Regions from separate parts of the Homo sapiens genome. Here region 1 is linked to region 2. The links come from fine-mapping of genetic effects on gene expression. Tissue or cell type: esophagus mucosa. Region 2 holds a variant in brackets; the other region holds the start of a gene. All regions are shown on one strand. Distances are between the middles of the regions. Region 1 holds the start of DRC11 (dynein regulatory complex subunit 11). Region 2 has its middle 210 kb from the start of COPS8-DT.

The links. PIP is the estimated chance that this variant, and not a neighbour inherited with it, causes the effect.
Region 1: it holds the start of DRC11, and the variant in region 2 is the best candidate, but not a certain one, in a credible set for the expression of DRC11 in esophagus mucosa (GTEx, PIP 0.53).

Annotation. Positions count from the first base shown.
Region 1 is chr2:236,506,056-236,508,965 of GRCh38, forward strand. DRC11 (dynein regulatory complex subunit 11) reads right to left here and starts at 1,421. Exons shown (of 19, transcript NM_024726.5): 1 at 1,202-1,421. The coding sequence starts at 1,212. RefSeq lists a silencer at 1,547-1,596.
Region 2 is chr2:236,874,197-236,877,106 of GRCh38, forward strand. No RefSeq gene overlaps it. Among named protein-coding and RNA genes, the nearest start is that of COPS8-DT, 210 kb to the right of the region's middle. The variant G/C (reference allele first, on the strand shown) is at 1,771.

The sequences.
Region 1 (2,910 bases), 370 kb before region 2:
CTGCCAAATCAACAGTCAGTTCTCAGTTCTACCCCAACTTGTCTCAGGAGCACTTGATGGAGGAGAAAGAAGTTACTTCTCCTGGAAACACTATTATTTCTTCCACTCGCTTCTTCCTCATGGATCATGTCTTTGATTCCTTTGCCAGGTCTCCTCTTCCCCCAGCCTTACTGTGGATGATCCCAGGATCAGTCCTTACACCTCTTTATTAATATTCATTCTATGTCTCACAAAGACCATCACAGGCTGACAGTGAGCAAGTTTATATTTCAGACATGGGTCTCGCTCCTGAACCCAAGATCTGAATATTTTAATTGCCTATTTCATCTCCACGTGATGTCCAATGGGCACTTCCAACTCAATACGTCTTAAACAGAACTCTTGATCTTCCCCATTTCCAAACCCTGGCAAGCCTTTAACCTCTCTGCTCTTATTTCCTTGCCTAGAATACAGGGCACGTAATAGCAACAGTGCAGGCTGGAGCTACAGTGCCCGGCTTGGCACTGTTCACTTGCTGTGTGAACTACTTCACCTCTTCATCCCCAAGTTCCCTCATCTGTAAAATGGAAATAACAATATTAACAGCCCCTACGTTACAGGGTTGCTGTGAAGCGGTTAGAACAGTGTCTACAGGGTCAGCGCTGTAATACCTGTTGGAAATTATTCTTACGAAGACCAAATGAGGTAACTTTGTGCAAGTGCTGTGTAAACGACACAGTGCTAGGCACACACTTCTTTCAGTACCAATGCCACTCGAGTCTGTGAAAAGCAAATGTCAATAATGCTTTCCCAAGATCTTTCTAGACTTAAATTTCAGGACCTAGGTGTTTCCACAAAGCACCGTATTTGTTACCGTGAAAGATTAACAAAAAAAGCAGACAAAATGGCATAGTGCTTCTCAGCAATAGCCCCTAAGGGCTTGGCAGGTATACGGAAGACTGGGAGCTCATCCCCATGGGGTGGTGGGACGCGTAGGGGAGGGGGAGATCTAAGTGTATGATTTTCCTTGCTCACAAGAAGCAGATACTCTATCCCGAGGCATATTTGAATTTCCTAAAAGGAAAAAAAGTGGGGGAGAGGAGGGAAGTTGAGAGGGGAGGAGAAAAGAAAAGAAAAAAGAAAATAAGAGAAGCAGAAAGCAAGCCACCTTCTGGCTTGGGGAAGCCCACTCCATGGCTGTGGCTGGGAGCCCATCACTTACGCGTTCGACATTGCTGGCTACTTTCCCTCTTTTCCTCGCCCTCCGGGAAGCTCTTCCGTTGCTCTCTGAAGGACGGTGGCAGCAGGGGTCAGGGCACTACCAGGAGCTACAGAGGATTTGGGTGGGGGGTCTTCTGGAGGGAGAAACCAGGACTGCGAGAATCTTCTGCTTCGGGCAGGAAAAGGTGAGGCCGGGTTTGCTTCGCAGGCACGGAGCGCGCAGGCGCAGAGAGGTGTTTCACTCCTTCCCGTCGCGACCCAGAGACTCGCGAACCTCACTTCGGCCACTCAGGTGGGCGCGACGCGGCCCTAGCAACGGAAACGCCGCGCCTGCGCATTGCCTTCCGCCTGCCCCCTCCCCCCCCCCGCCCCCCGCATTCCGCGCCTGCGCCACCGCGGGAGGCCTGGGTGGGCGCAGCTGTGGGAGCCGGTCGGAGTCCGAGCGCTCCGTCGCGGGGCCCGGCCGCTTGGCGAGCCTGCTCCGGGCCCCAGCACTTAGCCTGTGGTCCTCCAGGCCGTCTTCCCGCTTTCCTGCTGGCCCCATTTTCATCCACTGTCAGCTCTGCGGCCTTGGGCAAGGCCCTTAATGATGGTGGTCTTCAGTTTTCCCATCTGTAAACTGGGTATAACAGTCGTTCGTTCAGAACTTTACTGGGCATCTATTCTGGGCCAAGTGCAGACTTAGATTCTGGGCACCCAAGACTTAGGCAGACGCGCCCTTCGGAGACTTAATGAGTATGAACTAAGGCGCGGGTGCGTTGTAAATGTAAAATGCAGTGTGGATGCTATTAACAGTTATCCGTAAGTCGCTATGAGTGTTGGCTTTCATTGCTCTTCTTTCTTCGACTTTAGTAACTGTTGAGGTTTATTTGCACATTTTAGACCCTGCAGCTCCTATTGGAACGCCAGGTTTAATGCTGTCAAAGGCGTGGAGAGGACATCCAGGTAAAAATTATAATCAGGATCACAAAACCTCTCCCCCACCATTACTAATGAAATGCGCAAAAGCATAGTAAAAGCCAGCCCTCCGCACCGCCTTCAAATAATGGAGCAAATTATTTCTCAGACGAGAAATTGAGTACAACCTTGTACCGTAAACTTCAAAAACTCAGTGAAATAGCAGCTTGCCGTGGAGAATGGTGTCCAGCCTCATCTCCACCCTCCCAAAGCCCTTCAGGGGGCAGAGACCAAGTAGACACAACACCAAGAATTCTCATTAATGCTTTTTGATGCAAAGAATACACACACTGAAAAGAAGGGGTATGAAAGGGTGAGCCGAACGAGGAAACACCTGGGGAAATCCGGCCAGATAAAACCATCCTGAGTGGAGGTCAATCCCTACCGCTCCCAGGACCTGAGCAGGGACAGGAGAAATCTCCAGGGCTTGCCTTTTTCTAGGTCCCTACATTGAATTGAGGCAAAGATTCAAAGTCAAAGGGCATGTTGTCACAGGAATAGGGCACACTCGTGACAAGAGTGGGAGGATGGTGGTAAAGGAGCTTATCAAAATCTCAGAAGAGAGCACAGAGCCTGGAAGTTGTGTGGATTCAAGGGAGCAGTCCTTATCCTAAATGTGTACTCAGGTTCCAGAAAAGCAGAGAAAAGTGCAGTATCTCAGCTCTGGAACTCAGATACAGTGAGAAGACAGTCAAAGAGAATTCGCCCACATTATATTTGAACAAACAGAACATTTTCAAAGAGCAACACGTG
Region 2 (2,910 bases):
ATGGCTGTCACTGTTATAGAAACTGTGTCCCTCATGCTGCAGTATCTCAGAAACAGAGGCAGAATTTAATCATCTCATCCTCTGATGTGAAGGTCTGTATGGTTTAATATGCACACATCACAGATTTCAAAATTTGCTGCTGAAATTCAGTCTTCAGCAGAAACCTAGCTGTCTCTTTGACTTGAAATGTGTTGTAAAATGTATAATAAACATCTATTAAACAAACAAAAAAGAAACTGTGGATAGCATACTCAGTACAGACCTTAAAAGTGAACTTCAGATGCATCAGTATTTTCCCCAAATGCTCCAGAAATTCTTGACCATAACCAATTAGACTTTATTGAAATTCTATAGAGTATAACGCACTGTTCTACATCAAGGGCCAATTGCTACAAATAAGAAATGATTCTGGCATTTTTTTTCCACCTCTCTCTTAATCTTAGGTCACGGTGCCTCTATATTTTTGCACCAAATTTACTTTCCTCTGAAATCTGTCAAATGGAAATAAGACGCTGCGTGTTGCTCCGTAGAGTCTCACCTAAGGGATCTAGCCCCTATGTCTTTGTATTCAGAAACTGGGGTCACGTGGGGCCAAATGGAAATGAAAAGGGCTGGGAATATAAGCATGCTTAGATGGAGACAGGCGACAGCCACTGGTGATGGACCCTTAAATTAGCAAAGTTCAATCCCACCCCAATTTTCTAAGAACTTACTGAGTACCTGGAGGAGCTGCCTTAGGAATGTATCTACAGCTAATGAAAGGTGACCCTTCCTGCGACTCTCCTGCCTCTTCAAACAAACAAGTTCTTCCCGCTGTAATTGGCCCATGTCTCCTGCCCTGTCCTTTGAACCTGCCACCATGCACTTTTGCCCCAGGGGATGTCAAGCTGGGTTTCAAATTTCTCTGGTATGCATTAGCTTTTCCTTTTATGATAAAAAGCTCAAACATCAGGACTCTTTGCTGGACAAAGCAGGGGAACTGTGGAGCCTGTTGTCCTTGAACTGAAGACGTCAGAGGGACCCTCACTGTGAGATGGACCCATAGTCACATCCATGCCTGCTGGCTGGGGAGGCTGGGACATTGCTATGAGGGTCCATGCCCATACACCTTGTGAAGGGGAGAAAAGGCAGCATGGCTGCCCCCACCCTCTCCTTTCCTTTCCTTCCACACTACTTGTAGGGGAGAGGCTTTTTGGTAATACTGTGTTAACTAGCCAGAGACTTCATTAGAGTAACAAGATATTGATTGAGTTTATTAAGCTATGAAAAGTGTTGAATAATAGCAAGAGACAGTGTTGTTTGTCTTAGAAGCTGGAAGAGCTAAAGCCTCAAGTATGGGCCATCACCCTCCAAGATAGAGCCAGTGCCTGGAGCGGAAGGGGACAGGGAAGGTCCTGGGAACCCCAAGAAAGGAGGTGGAGAAAGGCACGGAGAGAACCCCAGGATCCATCTGGCAGAAGATCCCAGGAGAAAAAGCAGATTGTGAGTGATCTGCTAAGAGCCTGACATTTTTCTGATCATGAGGATTCCCTATGCAGCTTTCCAGGAGCCAGGGCCAGCTAAGGGTTAGACAAAACTTCTTCCTACAGTTGCAACTTGGAGGCTATTTTGAGAAGGAAATATTATATTGTTCCTAATTGTCCCTGAAAGCTAGTAGGTTAGAATGAACATTCTGCAAGGACTTCAGAACATAAAGCAGTGTGCACCTTAGGCTAGGGTGGTACCCACCTCCCTACCCTACCAACGTGCTTCCAGACACACAGAGCAAAT[G/C]AGTCATTGCAGTGAACGCCCAGGCTCAGAGGGCTGCAGGGAAGTGGGTGGGGACGGCCTGGATGGGAGCTGGCAAGGACACCTGCACTCCGTCAAAGAGGCCCCCAGCCACCCGAGGGGAAATCCAGTCTGCCGGCCCTATCTCATCCTGTCTTCCAGTCACCTGGCGAGGAAGAGGTCAGCCATGGGGAGAGTGATGGTGCCTCTGGAGCGGGGCCTTGACCTGCTGTCCAGATGGGTTTGCAGAGTCTCTGGCTGGAGGAAGGTGGCTGCCTCTCTGGCTGCCCTGATGTGCCTGCCAGGAAAAGGAAAGCCTGGTGTGTCCGGCCAGTTGTCCGGGCTGACCGAGGCTGCCGTGGACGACCTGCCCTCTGAGTTTCCTCTCTCCTTCTCTCCACCGCCTCTCCAGTGTGTGGTCCAGGCGGCTCTTGGCACCAGCTTGTGCCTCGGTCTGAAGACCTCACAGGCCCTCTGGGGATATCACTTTCCTCTTCTGCCCCAGCTCTGCATAACAAGGACCATGCAGAGTTCCTCCCTGTGATCTCATGACAACAAAATCAGATGCTCAGCCAATTCCATGGAAAAGCAGTCTGTCACATCCACCATTTTGCTTCATGCAGACCAACCACCCACTGCACCCATCTATTTTGGTGGTAATCCACATTGTATGATAACTGAGATCTATGTTTTTAGGCAGAGTGTAACTGCTATTTTATTAGGGGTTTTTAGCTCATCAAGATGGTGTTTGCAGAACCTAACAGAGCGATAAATTTGTTTGTTTTAATCGTTTCCTTTTTTTTCCACCAGAGGTTAATTGTTTGGTATTCTTTGTTAAACTAACACTTTCGATGGGTTAAGAACCACTAAAGCCACTTAAATAAACAGACTGTTCAGGTAAGAACAGGAAAGCTAGCATAGACACAAGCTATTAACTGTCTGGATTGGGGCCTGGACTGTTAGTTAATTAACATTCACAATGATGTGGATTCACTGGGAGATTTTTGAAATACCCATTAACTGCTTAAAAGAAAGTGTTGACTTTCTTTTTTAGGTAGAGGAAGAAAATTCCCGAAATTTTATCTTTTTAAATTATTACAATAAGCCCTATTAAGTAATGTCATATTGCCCTTCAAAGGTACC